Linked DNA regions of Homo sapiens: region 2 is linked to region 1. A link means that fine-mapping ties the variant in region 1 to the expression of a gene that starts in the linked region. Tissue or cell type: testis. Region 1 holds a variant in brackets; the other region holds the start of a gene. All regions are shown on one strand. Distances are between the middles of the regions.

What was found. PIP is the estimated chance that this variant, and not a neighbour inherited with it, causes the effect.
Region 2: PRAG1 starts here. The variant in region 1 is fine-mapped to the expression of PRAG1 in testis (GTEx, PIP 0.97).

Annotation. Positions count from the first base shown.
Region 1 is chr8:8,680,490-8,688,586 of GRCh38, reverse strand. LOC105379225 (a long non-coding RNA gene) reads left to right here and starts at 1,314. Exons shown (of 3, transcript XR_948927.4): 1 at 1,314-1,681; 2 at 1,806-1,913; 3 at 2,448-2,526. The variant C/T (reference allele first, on the strand shown) is at 4,569.
Region 2 is chr8:8,381,707-8,389,804 of GRCh38, reverse strand. It overlaps PRAG1 (PEAK1 related, kinase-activating pseudokinase 1), which reads left to right and starts at 3,366. Exons shown (of 6, transcript NM_001080826.3): 1 at 3,366-3,484; 2 at 7,971-8,098. The coding sequence starts at 8,058. It overlaps LOC105379222 (a long non-coding RNA gene), which reads right to left and starts at 241. Exons shown (of 3, transcript XR_002956679.2): 1 at 156-241. RefSeq lists a silencer at 2,984-3,663 and an enhancer at 7,702-8,098.

The sequences.
Region 1 (8,097 bases):
GTGGCATATTGTGATTGGGTTGGACAGCACAGAACTAGATGCTAACAGCTGGGGAAGAGGAAGAAGTGGAACTGGAAGGCTGAAATCCATTGACAGTCTGTATGCAGAATAGTCATCTCTTGACAGCTGAGGGTGGGAGGCCGGAGAGGGAGGATCTGTATAAAAAACAGAATGAATGCTCGGTAGTGAGAAATCTATTCATATAACCCGTTATATTAATTAAAAAATACTAACAGATTCTTTTTGTAAAATTTAAAATCAATTTTTAAACTTTTATTTAGGTTCAGGGATACACTTGGAGGTTTTTATGTGTGTAAATTGCATGTCACGGGGGTTTGGTGTACAGGTTATTTAATCACCCGGTTAATAAGCATAGTACCTGATAGACAGTTTTTCGATCCTCTAAGATTCTATTTTGTTAACATTCAACATGAACGACTAATTAAAACAACAACAACAACAACAACAACAAAAACCCGTGGTGAAATAAAATAGAGGGATATTTCCCTCAGTGGTAAAGAATATTTACTTAAATCAATGATCAACTTTATAAGTGGTTTAATAGCAGAAGCATTCCCAGCAAGTTCAGAACTATTTTTTAAGCATTGAGCTGGAAGGGCTAACCAATTAAATTAGATAAGGGCCTACATTTAAGGGTAAAAATATTGACAGGAAGAGGCAAAATAGAAAAAAGATCCCATTTACAATGGTGGTGACAAGAAAATTAATAGGATTTCAATGAAGTCGTAGTAGATTAAAAATGACTACAAATTATTTGCCACTTTGCTTAGAAAGAGGCTGAATCTAATTCACCCCTCAATGACTAGGCTTGGCCACGTGACTTGCCTCGGTCAATGGGACACCGGCAAGTATGGCGTAGCAGAGGCTTGATAGTTGCTCACGCATTGGAGCTTGTCCAAGTAAAAAAGCTAGTCTAGTGCGTGGAGGATGAAAGGAGGCTTGGAAGAGGACCAAGGTACCCAGCTGCCAGCTCGATCCAAGGCTCCTGACAAGTCCATCTTGGTCCCTGCACTGCAGCCAGCTGAATGTAGTCTCATGAATGAGCCCAGACAAGAACATCAAATGATAGAGAAATGATATATAGTCAATCATTAACTTTGGGGATAGACTGTCATGCAGCAATAATTAACTGATACAGAAGAAAACTGCTTTAGAATCCCGGAGTTGTAGTTATTTTGGAAATCATCTGATGGCCTTGCCTTACAACAAAGGGATACTGGAAACTGGGAGTAGACAGTTTAAGAGAGGGGATGACATGGGCAGGTTTAAGGCCAGCAATTTCATCTCCATTTATGCATTAATTTAGTAATTCTTTCATCAAGCATTCTTTGAATGCTCACTGAGCTTGGTGCTCAGAAAAATGGAACAGGCTGAGTTCAGAGGGAGAGACAGGCATAGGAGGAAACAGCCATGATATCAAGAGATAAACAGTATAATAAAAGTATATGCAGAGGGCTGTTTCCAGGGACATGGGGCCAAAGTGGGAGGGTCACTGAAGTGACATTTGGACTGGGTCATAAAGGATCAATAAGATTTTATGAGTCAGAGAAGGTTGGGGAAGGACATTTCAGGCAGAGACAGGAGTAGCAAAGGCCCAGAAATGTCTTAGTGTAAACCAAATCAAGGAAATGGTAGGGGGTATGGACCAGTCTCTAGCCAGGTGATAAAAGGACATGATTTAATTTGACTTTTGTCCTTGCAGACCTCATTCTGCAAATCCATTGTGGATTGCCTTCCAAGGAATCTTGATTTCAGCTAACTCTTCACCACCCTTTTTGCAACAGGTTTCAGCTAGGACCTACAAAGTGAAAAGGACACCTCCTATAATATTTAGCTAGACGGTTCAGAATTTATACCTTGTCTCGTCTTTGCTGTTCTGTCTTTAACATAATGTAAGTTTCACTGCTGATTCATTTTATCTTAATAGACAGGTAAGCATAATTTTGCACATGACATTTGGAGATGATCTGCACTTGGAAAATGAACTGATTTGTTTTCTTCCCTGCAGAACATGGGAAAGGAGAACTCTAATAGGTTACAACCAGTTTACTTCACCAGCTCCCCCTTTGGCATTGAAATAAGCGTTTTGACTTCTTTGTAATATACCTGAATATCATTTATTAGAATTTGACACAAAGACAAGTGTTCTTCATTGTTTGTATCTGTAACTAGGGAAATATGTTTTCTGAGAGTTTTAACATTCCAATCCATCATCTAGCTAATCCTTTTAATCCCTGTAGATAAGTAAATAGAAAAAAATGTATCAATCATTATTTTTATTTTTACTAGCCCACATCCTCATTCAGAGGTTGCACTGTTGATGATATTAAGGCAATCATGTTCTTTTTTAAACACCTGACTCATTGCTTGTTTCTAGTTAATATGGAAATAAATGGCGCTCTCTCTCTCTCTCTTTTTAATAAAAGGCTGGCTTGTGCTGTTCCAGTGCTTACAGTGAAACTGAATGTCAAGTGAAGCCATCTGAAAATAAAAAGGGACCAGAAATCATCTTGTCTCTTTATTTTGTGACATGTTTCATTCTTCTCTTTCCAGCAACTTTAAAAAATTCATTCAGTTTGCTTCCATTTCTGTTATTTTAAAAATATGTCCTCTTGTTTCTTTGATTTTCTTAAGTAGCATAAGCCACTCCTGCCTGTAGACACACACACTCATTCTGCCTTGTTGTGCTGGGCCGTCAGCAGGAACCACTCTTAACTCTAGCTCCATGTGAGCTCTCTTCCAGGAAGTAATAGAGCTGGGGAGCTGGTACTTGAAGGATGAGACTTCACCAGGCAGTTAAAGGAGAAAAGCGATCCAGGCAGAGGAAACAGTGGGAGCTAAAACCTGGAAGAGTAACTCCTGAGGGTCATGAAGTTTGTCCTACTATAAATGTACAAATGTGTGTGTGTGATCTCACCATCGCCATCACTGTGACGCTGCTGAGGCAGGTTCAGAAAAAACTTGAATGTCACGCTGGAGGGTGTGGTCTTTATTCTGCAGGTGAGAGAACTATGAGTGGTTTTAAAGCCAGGTAATGCCATGCCCTGATTTGGTTTTGAGCCATCACTCTGTAGCAGAACAGAGAGAAAGGGGGGCTGGTTAGGAGGCTATTTAATTGCGGTGTATCACGTGACAGATGTTAGACTTGGAAGTCAGTATTCCAGAAGAGAAGAGCAAAAGTAATGTGGTACTGGGGGTGGTGGTTAGCCTGGGGACTGGGTGCATGGCGAAAGCCAAGTTTCACAGCAAGACAGGGAAAAGAAGGTGTGTGTGAATGGCGAGGCCAGGGACAGGGACGTGGGAGGGGAGGAATTTGGCTTTGGATATTTAGAAAGTTCAGGGAGGAAGATTGCATAGATGACTCTGAGATCTGATAATGGATCAAGGTGAAGTCTGATGCCTTTTGTTTGCTTGCTCGGTTGCCAGCATTTTTAGACACTTGTTTATCTGTTTGGGTGTTGTCTCTTTCCACCTGCAGCTCCCTAGATGTTTACGGTCACTTTTCATACATATATATATATATATATATATATTTTTTTTTTTTTTTTGCGACGGAGTCTTGCTTTGTTGCCCAGGCCGGAGTGCAGTGGCATGATCTCGATTCACTGCAACCTCTGCCTCCAAGGTTCAAATGATTCTCCTGCCTCAGCCTCCTGAGTAGCTGAGATTATAGGCACATGCCACCACACCCAGCCAATTTCTGTAGTAAAGACGGAGTTTCACCATGTTGGCCAGGCTGGTCTTGAACTCCTGACCTCAGGTGATCCTCCTACCTCAGCCTCCCAAAATTCTCAAATTACAGGCATGAGCCACCATGCCTGGCCAACTTTTCATTTATAACAATGAAAGTTTCCCATTGCCTTTTTTTTTTCTTTTTGCTGAAATGTACTCTTCTAGCATTTAAAGTCAAAGTGAATACAATGTCAGGTTAACCCACTTGAAAATAAAAGCAACCAACTGCCATAACAAGACTTAAAAAATAATATAGAGCTGCTGCTTTTCCTCTCTCTCATGTTTTATTTTTACCCTTATGATTTTCTCATAATCACTTTGATTTTTTTCTTCCAATATTCTTTTCCCATCTTCCCACTTAGAAGGAAGCAGTAGATATTGGGGCATTTTTCCTGGTCATTTTCAGAGCATTGGTTCTGCACTGCAGGGTTAGTTACCTACCACCTACCTAGGAGATGGGGGAAGTTACCTCCCCCTCTCTCAAGCTGTCTCGGGGAAATAATTAGAAACTCAGATTAAAATTTTCATTCCCATAGCTTGAGCTGTGAAACAACAAGATACATGACAATATTCTTGGAATATCCTTACTCATAAATGTCAGAAAATGCCTTCCTTAAAAAATAGAAATGTAAAAATTTCTTCTTTTTATTGCAACACTTACCTATGGGCATGTAATAGCCCTCACTGAATAGTTGTTGAATGAATTAAAATATAAATTATTCACTTTTTTAAATTATTATTATTTTTGAGATGTAGTCTCACTCTGTCACCCAGGCTGGAGTGCAGCGGCACAATCTCAGCTCACTGCAACCTCC[C/T]AGGCTGGAGTGCAGTGGCGTGATATCGGCTCACTGCAACCTCCGCCTCCCGGGTTCAAGCGATTCTCCTGCTTCAGCCTCCCGAGTAGCTGGGACTACAGGCACATGCCACCATGCCCAGCAAATTTTTTACTTTTAGTAGACACGGGGTTTCACCATGTTGGTCAGGCTGGTCTCAAACTCCTGACCTCAGGTGGTCCGCCTGCCTTGGCCTCCCAAAGTGCTGGGATTACAGGAGTGAGCCACTGTGCCCGGCCTAAAATCTAAATTATTAAAAAAAGGTTTATGAACTCTACGAATGACTTCTCCTTTTTATTACACAGCACCACTGTTGTAACAAAATGATGTTAGTTTTAATCTCCAAACCAGTTCCGTAAAATGCTAAAAACTCATGATGATTCAGAGACATGTTGACTGTCATCTGCCACCAAATCACCATTTAAAAAGATAAAGAGTCCTATATTAGATAGAAAGAGGCCTCATATAGAGTATTTCATCCCCCAAAGCAGGTGCTCATCAAAATAGATTCTAATAATTATGGACTCTAATTCAGTGGATGATAGGCTTATGTTACAGCAATCAAAGTGCCTTTTTTCAATTAGTGCATGTCAAATAGAATAGGAAGGTTTGGGCTTCTCTGTAATGACATGGTTATTACCGATTTCTTAGAGTGTTGCAGTAATGGGCCGAGCGTGGTGGTTCACGCCTGTAATCCCAGAACTTTGGGAGGCCGTGGCTGGTGGATCACGTGAGGTCAGGAGTTTGAGACCAGCCTGGCCAACATGGTGAAACCCCATCTCTACTAAAAATACAAAAATTAGCCAGGCGTAGTGGTGCACACCTGTAATCTCAGCTGCTTGGGAGGCTGAAGTGGGATAAGTGCTTGAACCCAGGAGGCAGAAGTTGTAGTGAGCCAAGATTGCGCCACTGCACTCCAACCTGGGCAACAGGGCAAGACTCTCTCTCAAAAATAAAAAAATAAGTAAATAAATAAATAAATAAAAAGGACGTTGCAGTAATGTAATGTTTTCCAACATTATTTTAACGAGGTTCAGCTGAATCAAGTTACCTATCCATGGTTTGGCGTCAAATCAACACACCTGGGGCAGGTTCTAAATTTGTCTACATTATTTTTCTTTACGGAACTTTCCAAACTCTTGCTAGGCCACAACATGAACCTGACAATTGTTTCTTTCTGAGCGAAGATCCTGTCAGACAAGTGAGCCATTGAGACTGGAACCCGCTGTGGGTTTGTGTGTTGTATGTTGCAAAAGGCAGGGTCCTTTTTGCATAACGGATCCTCCTGAGACTGAGGCTGGACTTGAGTTTGTTAGTCACAATTTTCATTTCCGTAATGAAAAACCACTTTCTTAAAGACAACTTTATTAATCAGAGAGTGGAATTTCAGATTATAGAGACAACTAAAGATTTGGATGAATTTTAGCATCCATTCTGTCTATAGTAAAATGAAGATGCTGTACCTTCCATATACCATTTCCTGGGTGCCAGGCATTGTGCATAGTACTTAGCTCACATCAACTCATCCTATTCTTTTGCAACGGGGTGTGAAATGTGACTTTTCCTGTGCCCTCCTTGTGTTTGGCAGAGGCTTCAAAGCTCAACCACAGCAGGTGCCAGACCATCTCTGCAGAACCAGTTTGGCCACCATCACTCATCATGCTCCTCCAGGCTCCATAAGAAAAAGTGCAAAAATTCCCTAGGAAGATCAGGGCAGAGACATCCCTCTAGAAAGAGTCTTCTGCCATGGTGTGGCCTCCCCATTTTCCCGGTATCTCCCAGGGCTCTTTGTACAAGGCGGGCTCTGCAGAGAGACAGTAAAAACCAACCTGATTCTTCCTCAATATCATGGCATGTATTTTTCCAATAATTGCTCTTCTCTGTCCTTGGATGAATTTCTGAGTTCATTGATTTACCTATCACCTTCAGATATTAAAAAATCTGATACATAGTTGAAATGCCAACACACATTTATTTTTTATTTTTATTTTAAAAAATATTTTTAAAGTAAATACATAAAGACATAGGCTTGCTGTGTTGGCCATACTGGTCTCAAATTCTCAGCCCTGAGCGATCCTCTCGCTTTGGCCTCCTGAATTATTGGGATTATGGACACGAGACACCGCACCCAGCCCCAACCCACATCCAATTCACCACAGTGTTTCCTCTCCTTAGACGCATCCTGCCTCCAGCTAGGAGGTCTACAGTGTGGCCAGGCCACAGTTAACTTCCTTCCTATCCCCTCATCTGTCTTCCACTAGTCCTTTCCCCGAACTTACTGTGCTCCTTTGGGGTTCAAGGGAAGAGAGGAGAAGTGTTGAGGGGCTGAAAAGGCTGTCTTTGACTGGGGCAGTGCTAATCTGCCCACACAAGTGTGGCACATGGCCACATATGGATTGTGTGTCTCCTGGGTCCCTCTTGTGGGGATCTTGGACAGCCCCATTGGGCACAACCAATGATCATTCCTGGGTTGGCCTCTTCAACTTCTATCCACTCTGACTCCCTGTAGGTGGGGATTACTGCTGCCACCTCCCCTCCTCCCAAGATGGTCTTCTCAGATGGAGTCTCCTTCTTTCTTTCTTTGGCCCAGATCAAGGCCATCTGGCCCATGGAAGTCATAGCCGCTGTGATGCCCCTGGTGTGGTGCTTCTAGCTCCTCCTAGAGCCCACTCCTCCCTCTGCCTCCAGGGAAGTTCAGCCACAGCTTCTCGCTTTCAGCCTTTTTATAAAACACAAGTGAGGCTGGGCATGGTGGCTTACACCTATAATCCCAGCATTTTGGGAGGATGAGGTGGGAGGATCGCTTGAGGCCGGGAGTTTGAGACCAGCCTGGGCAACATGGCAAGATCCCCTCTCTAAAAACTTTTTTTTAATTAGTCAGGCATGGTGGTGCACACCTGTGGTCCTTGTTCCTCAGGAAACTGAGGTAGGAGGATTGACTGAGCCCAGAAGTTCAAGGCTGCGGTGAGCTATGATCATGCCACTGCACTCCAGCCTGGGTGACACAGTGACACCCTGTCTCTAAAAAACAAAGCAAAACAAAAACCATGAATGAGACACCAGTCCATGCATACTCTCCACACTTCAAGTTTTCCAACATTTTCTAATATTTTCTGGTTTCTCTCTGATCTGAAGCAGGTGGGTTGCAGAAGGGCACCCCTTTCCTTACCTGCCTCCTCCCATTTGGGTGAACTGCATGGCACCCCAGCAGCCCTCCACAAGGACACTCTCCCTGGCAGCCTCTCTAGCACATCTTATTAATATTCTCTTTTATATCTTGAGAGGAGTAATTGGCTCATTCGGCAATGGCGGCAAATGGGTTTGGGGATAATTCTGCAAGTCTTGTGGAAATGGCCAAAAGCCTGCCTGAAAACGTGGTGGTGCTTGACACTTCTTGTTTTCAGTTTTCGGTCCTTGGTCCAAACTCTGCTAACACTTAATCTGTGGATTAGGAGTTTACAAATGTCCTTTTTACAAATGTTGAAACTAAGACTCAGAAAGATTAAATAAG
Region 2 (8,098 bases), 300 kb after region 1:
GAGGAGATAATATGTGTGGGATTTCTTTGGCTCAATCTTCATACTATCTGACCCCTCTCCAATACCCCAGCTTGTATTTTTGCAGTATAATTTAATGGCACATCCTTCCTAATCCTGCCATTTTGCCTAATTCCAAACTACCTTACTTTACTCACCCCGAAGCACTCCCAGCCTTGACCTCTTGTCCCAGTTTCCTAAAATATAACTGCTCTTGTACGGAATGGTGCCGCTGGACTAAAACTCTGACGAGGAATTGCTGTTCTTCAAGGTCTGGTCTGTATCAGGGAGCCCACGCCCTGCAGTTAAAAGTGTCATAAAAATGGACTGATAAGTAGCTAGAAGCAGAATGCTGTGTCTACACAAATTACACTGCATTGCAGGGTACAGTTTGGAAGTTCAAGCAAGAATTCTTTATGAAAATGAATGAGCTTACCGTAGCTTGACTGAGGATATCATATACTTAACAGTCACTGGTAGAGCACTGCCTAAGAGTGTGGGTATTTTATGTGCATCCCAGTGACTCCTTTGAAGTGTTTCTTGATTCTTTTCATTAGGCAAGATGAAGTCGTCTCTATGGCCATGTTGCTGGCTTTTAAAAAGATGCACATTATATGTCAGCAACTACAGTATAATGCATTTACTTTGTGTGAGCACAGCAAACCACTTAAGAACACACTTTATTTTGTAGACACACTGAATTTACCCTTCAAGTACTGCCCCATGCCACAGAACTACAAGTCTTGCCACATTATGGCTTTCTCTTATAATTATGCTCTTTAGCCTGTTCATGTATTAAGAATAAATTAGGGGCCGGGCGCGGTGGCTCACACCTGTAATCCTAGCACTTTGGGAGGCCGAGGCAGGCAGATAACTTGAGGTCAGGAGTTCAAGACCAGCCTGGCCCAACATGGTGAAATGCTGTCTCTACTAAAAATAGAAAAATTAGCAGGGCATGGTGGTGGCCGCCTGCAATCCCAGCTACTCAGGAGGCTGAGGCAGGAGAATGGCTTGAACCCGGGGAGTGGAGGCTGCAGTGAGACAAGATCTTGCCACTTCACTCCAGCCTGATTGAAAGATGAAACTCCATCCCAGGAAAAAAAAAAAAAAGAATAAGTTAGGTAAAGAGAAGAAAATAAAGTGCAAAAGTAAGTGCTTCTTTTATGTGTTCAGCACAGCCTTTATTCTGTGAGGTCAATGTCTCTCTTACAGAGGAAAGAAGTGAAACATTTAGCCTGAATCCTGAGAACCAGGAACTTCTCAAACATCTTAGTTTGCCCTCTCCCAGTGTAAATGAATTGCACACTTTCTGAAGTCACTTTTGTATTTCTCCATTGCAGACCACTTTGTACCTACCTGTTTAATCAACATCTTCCCCTCTTGAGTCTTGGTAGGGTCTGGATCTTTCAGCTCTGTTGGATGCTCATGAAGTGTAACCAAAGTTTCCCTTCCTTTTTTTTTTTTTTTTTTTTTTGAGACAGGGTCTTGCTCTGATACCCAAGCTGGAGTGTAGTGGTGCGATCTCAGCTCACTGCAACCTCCACCTCCCTGGCTCATGTGAGTCTCCTGCCTCAGCCTCCTGAGTAGCCGGGATTACAGGCGCCCACCACCACACTCGACTAATTTTTGTATTTTTAGTAGAGATGAGGTTATACCACATTGCCCAGGCTGTTCTTGAACTCCTGGCCTCAGGTGATCTGCCAGCCTCGGCCTCCCAAAATGCTGGGATTACAGGTGTGAGCCACCGCGCACGGCCAGTATTTGTTCAAATGATTTCTCTCCACTTAGGGGAGAGAGAAAAATAGGGCTGGACTACCTGCACTTGGCAAGGGCAGAGTGGCAGAGTAGACTTGCCTACCAGCGAAGCCAGACAGCCTTTGGTTCCAATCTTAGTACTACCACTTTTCAGCTGAGGAACCCCAGCAAATTGTGAGGCCCCCGAGCCTCAGTTTTCTTATCTGTAGAATGGGGATAATGATGCTCTCCTCATAGGATTGCTTAGCGCTGGGTAGGTCCTTAAGGAATGTCCATTGCACTCCCATCCCTCTACAGCTTCCCCCAGATTCTGTCCTCTTAGGAGGCATGGGTGTCACTGGAACATGAGGAAGAATTCCCTGGATCCTTTTTTCCCTTTCCTCACACAGAAGCCAAACCTCAAATACACATCTTCCCTCTCTGTCCACACCCACAGCAGCAAAGAGGAGAGCCAGGGATCTGGGGGTGGGGGTGGGGGCCCATCTTCCTCCTCTCAGTGGGTGGGGGCTCGCAGGCTGACTGGCAGAGGACCTTCACTGGAGTCAAAATAAACTGCCTTCCTGGGGAGGGGATAGAGGGCGAGAGAAGCCGCAGGTATTGTTTTGTGGGGGAGGGGGGTCCTCTTCCTATTCCATTTCACTGAATTCTTCCCACCCGGCATGGCCCTGGGAGGTGACCATAGCCCTGGCTCCCCGAGTAAACACCCAGGTCAAGCTACAGGACTGACTGGGTCTTAAGCTATTATACTCCCAGTGAAAAGATTTTTTTAGCCCGAGGACTATCTCGAACTCGTTCTATCTCAGTGAATGACTCACTGGAAACGGTGTAAACACAGGTGTATTACTGGCCTGCGGAAGACTTGGATGTCCCAGCATGGTAGAAGGCCAGGTCCCTGCAGTGCAACGCTTGCATTCTACATCCAGAAAACTAAAGTTCAAAGAGGTTAAGCAATTTGCCAGAATCCTGCAGTCCAGGGACTGAGCGGAACCTGGAATCCGCCACCGGGACTTCCAGCCCTGCTCCCTCCGGCGCCACCCTCTTCCCAGAGGTAGGGAGAGCTGAGGCTCGCTGTGCTCACGTGGCTTTCAGAGCCCGCCTCGGACCCTGACCTGTATTCCACTCCCGACCCCACACTTCCTCGTTTCCCCTTCCTTCTCCCTCTCTTCCCAGGGTCCCGCAGGGCCGGCTGGATGAAGTGATGCCGGGCACCTATACACGCATGATGGCAAAAGGAGGATTGCAACGCCAGAGCTCGCCCCTCCAGAGCTGTGCAGGGTCCCCACCGAGGAGGGGGTGCAAACGGGTGCTGGGCTCGGGGGTCAGCCCGCGCCAAGTCTGGGGCTGGGGGCGGAGCCTGCCGGTCCGGGGCGGGAGGGTGGGCAAGAGAGGGAGTCCCGGGGCCTGGAGACTTTGGAGGAGTCGGGGCCCTGGGGGTAGGAGACCGCCGGGTGGGAGCGGCAGGCGCAAGCCGGGCGGCGGGGCGCGCGGGCCAGGCGGGGCCGGGCGGCGGCAGGGACTGCGGAGGTGCGGCGTGAGCTGGGGCGGGCGGCGTCACCGGAGGCGGAGGGGGCGGAGCCGCGCTCACAGCTGCCACCCGGCCGCCGGGCCCAGGCAGAAGCCACCCGCCCGCGGCCGGGCACGCACCGCGCGCAGACCTTCTGCGAACAATGCTCCGGCCGGGCGGCTGGCGGCTCGGAGACCGACGGAGGGGCCGGGGGAGCGCAGCCCAGAGGTGAGCCCGCGACGCGCTCTCCAAATTCGGCCTCTTTTTGTCTGGCGAGCGTGGTCGCAGAGGGGAGCTTTGGAGGGGCGCTGCGATCGCCGAGCGGGCTACCCCCGGGGTGACAGGCGACCGCTCGGGAAGTGGGCAGTGCCGGGGCCGCGTGAGCCCCGGGTGGTGCCCGAGGTGCAGGGAGGCGCCCGGCCGGGAGGACCGAGGAGCTGGAGGGTGTTTTTGATTCATTCGAGAATCGCGCTCTTTAAAACGGGGAAACTTTCCTACGAGTTCCAGGAGGGAGGACCGACTGTTAGGATGGTTTCTCTGGTCTTGCTGCTCTGTCTGCGGCCGGAGGCTGAAGCGCTTTGAGGACTGCTTTCCACCGCTAGAGTATTGTCAAGGGGGAGAGACGGAAGGCCGCCTGGCTGCTGGGACCAGGACCCGGGGGGATGGTTTGGGGGTGCAGGGTATGCAGCAGCGGGGCTCCAGAGGCAACGAGATGATGCCCTTTTCCCCGAGCCCTGGCTGAGCCCTCTGAAACGCATGCTGTGAGCACGTTATTAACCTTTGCTGGTATCCGGGGACACACACACTTAGAACATAGAATCCTCTGCTGGGCATGGAGGCGGCCGGGCATTCGCAGCGGAGAGCGCCAGCTCACGGTGTGTGCGTTTCTCTCAGGTAAGCTCTCCCTGCACATGGTTTTGCAGAGCCGATAGCAAAGCCCAATGGTCTAGGGGCGAGGAGTTTTGGCGATGCATTCAGTGCGGAGTCAGGCTCAGAAGGCTTTCCTGATCACTGGCCTGAACTATTCTTAACAACTCCTCTCCCCTTCCCTTTCTGAGAAGAAAATTTGACAGAAAGCCCTAGGGAATTCCGCAGTTATTTTTCTCTCCTGAGGTCTGGTTGGTTTCGACTGTAGTGGGTGCAAAACCACATTCCTCCCTCTGAGATTTTCTTTCCTCCAGCACTGGAGGAAGAAAAAAGAAAAGGAAAAGTTGGGTGAATATCGTAATTTACCCTCTGCGTGAGTAGGGAGGCAGGGGGCTAGTGGGTGGTAAAGTTGTCACTTTCTCCTTTCTGCCTGGTCAGCCCTGGCCAGTGGAGTGTGCTGAAGTTCAGACACTTTCCACACATATTTCTTTCCTTTTACTGGCGTTGCATTAATTTAACTGTAACATACAGAAAAAAATTTTAGGTGAATGTTTTCTGCAATTCTGTCACTTCAGAATAAGGCATAAGCAACTTCTGATGTAAGTCTGAGGGGGTATTTTGGGCCAAAATATTTAATCTTAAAGATCTGGCCACCTTGATTCTTCAGATTCTTTTTTGAAATGGGGTGGGAGTGTATCTGACAGCTTCAGTCTTGCAAACTGTAGCCACAAATCTAGTGCAGAAGTTTGCAGAGGCAAAGACATTTTTTTCATGACTTGGATCAGAAAGAATGCTGAGCTCTTTTTTCTAATCTGACACTGCAGCCTCCTACTGAAATGGGGAGGATTTGCATAATTCTGGGGGCTGCCTCCCCTCAGAAGTAAGGAATGTGGGCTGCGAAGTGCCTTCCCCATGCTGTGGAGAGCTGGCACTGCTGCACCAGGCAAGGCGAGGCAAGGCTTTGTGGGTGCCACTTGTGTTTCTCACCATCTTTTACTTAAAACAAATAGGAGATAATTCCAGGCACAGAAGTGCAACGGGAAAAGAGGTTTTTTTTTTTTTTTTTTTTTTTTGGCTGCATGCGGTGGTAAATTCTGTTTGCTGCGACTGAGAAACCAGTTTTAACAGGATGCAGTGAGTCAATGACAGTGGGAAGCCCAGGGCTTCATTTGTTCTTTTCTTATTCAATGACTTCCCTTTAAAAATCTTTGCGTCCATCCGTCCCTGGCAGTCGTGTGATGAAAGTTGCCTCTCTAAACATCCAAGGATTTCTGAGCTGAGAATGGGAGCAAAGAGTGCTCGTAAACTGATGAGACATTCTCAAGGAAACTTCCCCCACGCTAGCAATCCAGATCCTTCCACACTCCCTTTGCACAGGGCTGTGCAAAGGTTGGGGAATCTTAGAAAGTAGGGCCTCTGATACCAATGTCACCCCTTCCGCAAAAACAAGTTTGTGTTCTTACTTGCCTGTTGAGGAGGCAATAAGTCGCCAAGCAGAACTGCTGCTTTGTGAATCTGTGATAGACCCTGAGGAAGTGGTTGGGCACCCACCTCCTCAGATAGCCCAGTGTCAGGAGGAGCTGTGGGAACTTGCAGAGCCCACACAGAGCTGGTTTCCAAACTGTCTTCCTCCATCCCGCGGAGCAGGCATGGGAGCATCTGCCTGCAGTGGAGGTGGGCTGGACAGTGTCCTTTCTGTGGCCTAGAAGGTGTAGACAGTCTTCACCCATCAGCGTCCCAGGAAGGGACCTACTGCCTATTCCTGAAGGCTGGAATACTTCCTCTGCTTTTTCCCCCTCCCAAAACTTAGCAGCAAGGCTACAGTTCTCTGTGGCCTGAGATTATAAGAGAAAGACAAAACCTGGCTATTTCCTCCGCTTGTTGAAGCCCAGTGACCTCTTCTGGAGAACTTGGCAAAGAAGGAACCTGCTACTTGGGTGTATTTGGAGGAGGAGAAGAACCTAGCTAACAGTCTTCTTAAAGAAAAGGACCTGTGAGACCCTAACAATAACTGCTAAAAGATACTTTTCTTTTATTTCAGAGGATTTATTTAGCTTAAAGATGCAGTGGGCTTTATTCTTAACTTTTTTTTTGTTTTTTTAGACAGGGTCTCACTCTAGTCACCCAGGCTGGAGTGCAGTGGTGTGATCATGGCTCACTGCAGCCTTGACCTCCTGGGCTCAGGCAGTCCTCCTACCTCAGCCTCCCAAGTAGCTGGGACCACAGGCATGCATGGCTACACCTGGATAGTTTTTTTAAATAATTATTATCTTTGTAAAGACAGAGTGTCTCTGTGTTACCCAGGCTGGTCTCAAACTCCTGGGCTCAAGCGATCGTCCTGCCTCGGCCTCCCAAAGTGCTGGGATTACAGGCGTGAGCCACCGCGCCTGGCCTCAACCCATTTTTCACTTTGGAGGGAAAAGAGGCACACGTAGCTTCAGCACTTGTTGAATGAACACCCCTGTCTATGAGTGTGGAGATAAAAGAGAGCACTTCCCACAAACACTCTGGAATGATTTTTGGGGTACCCGGCTCATTCCACCTGGTTAGTCCTGTTGACAGTTTAGAGATTATCAAACTTAAGGCAGATCCTTATGGGAGGAAAGTGGAGAGAAAACCCTAAGGCAAAATGGTCCCTATTTAATGAGAACCTATTCACCCTTATGTTCTTAAGGAAGATTTTGCTCTTGAACATTCTCCTTATGGGAAGTCAGTTTATTTTAAATAGGCTAAGAAGAGCCAGGAGCAATGCGCAAATCACCACTGCAGGGAGGAGCCGCCTGCAAAGTTGGCTTCTGTTTCTAGAATGGGCAAACTCTCCCGTGTCTATGGGCTGGTCCAAGTTCTTGTGTTTGCCATAGTTTCCCCACCTGTAAAATTGGGACAACAGCTACCTGATGGAATGATTTCAAGGTAATTGGTTAATGGCTGCAACTCTTTGAGCTCCTTCTCAGTGGTGAATTTACAAGGGACCATGGTGCAAACTGTTACTTGCAGTTTTACTCTAAGAAGCAATGAATTTTTTGAGCAAGCCAATTGCCTTCTCTCCAGAGCCATCACTTGGAAATAGCTCTTCGTTAATCTCTTCTCTCTCTTATCATCTATCCAGCCACCTTTGACCATGAATTTGTCTTACTACTGGTTTGCCCCTTTGGCCTATAACACCCAGCATTGTGGACCTCAGCAGCACACGGTCAAGTAATGTATATTAAGCAAGGGATATTTCTCAAGATGCCAGACTCTGCATAAGGTCTAGAGGACAGGCCAGCACCCCACTTCTCCCGTTTCCCAACCATTCCTTTCTCCACCTGGTTGGAAGTGTGGATTACAATGCACCTTTCAGGGCCTAAAGCTGCCTCCCCTCTCACACAGTTCTTGGTCAAACATTATTTTCCAAAAGCCATTGTTTTTATTTGCTGTACTGCTTGACAGTTCTTGTTTCTGTGGGTCAGCGTCCCAGACTCTAGGCCCCGGTGTCAGGGAATACATGGATGACGTACCAGCTTCTCATCTTAAACCCTACGTGATTTCTTCCCATAACTGCCCAAAACCTCCCAGGATTTTAGGGGACTCCCCACCCAGGATTTTAGGGGACCGAAATGTCTTTTATTTACTCCTTTAAAGCAACAAGGCTATGTTTAGTTTTTACAGCTTCTGATAAGGCCACACCACCAGAGAATGTTTAAGAGCCTTGTGACAAATGGGCGAGGGTCCCAAAATAAATGGGATCCTAATCTTTACCTTTTTCTCCTCCTTCTCCCTGATCAAATAGTGAGACTCTAATTGATAATGCACCCATTGTCTGGCATGGCAAATCTCTAATCAGGAAACTGTCCTGCCTTTCTAGGAAGCCGCTCTGTGACCCACCTCTGAATCCCACAAAACTGCACCAGAGAGCCGGGCGCAAGATGAACCAGCACCCTGTCGGCTCAAGATGCACCAGACCCTCTGCCTGAACCCCGAGAGCCTGAAAAT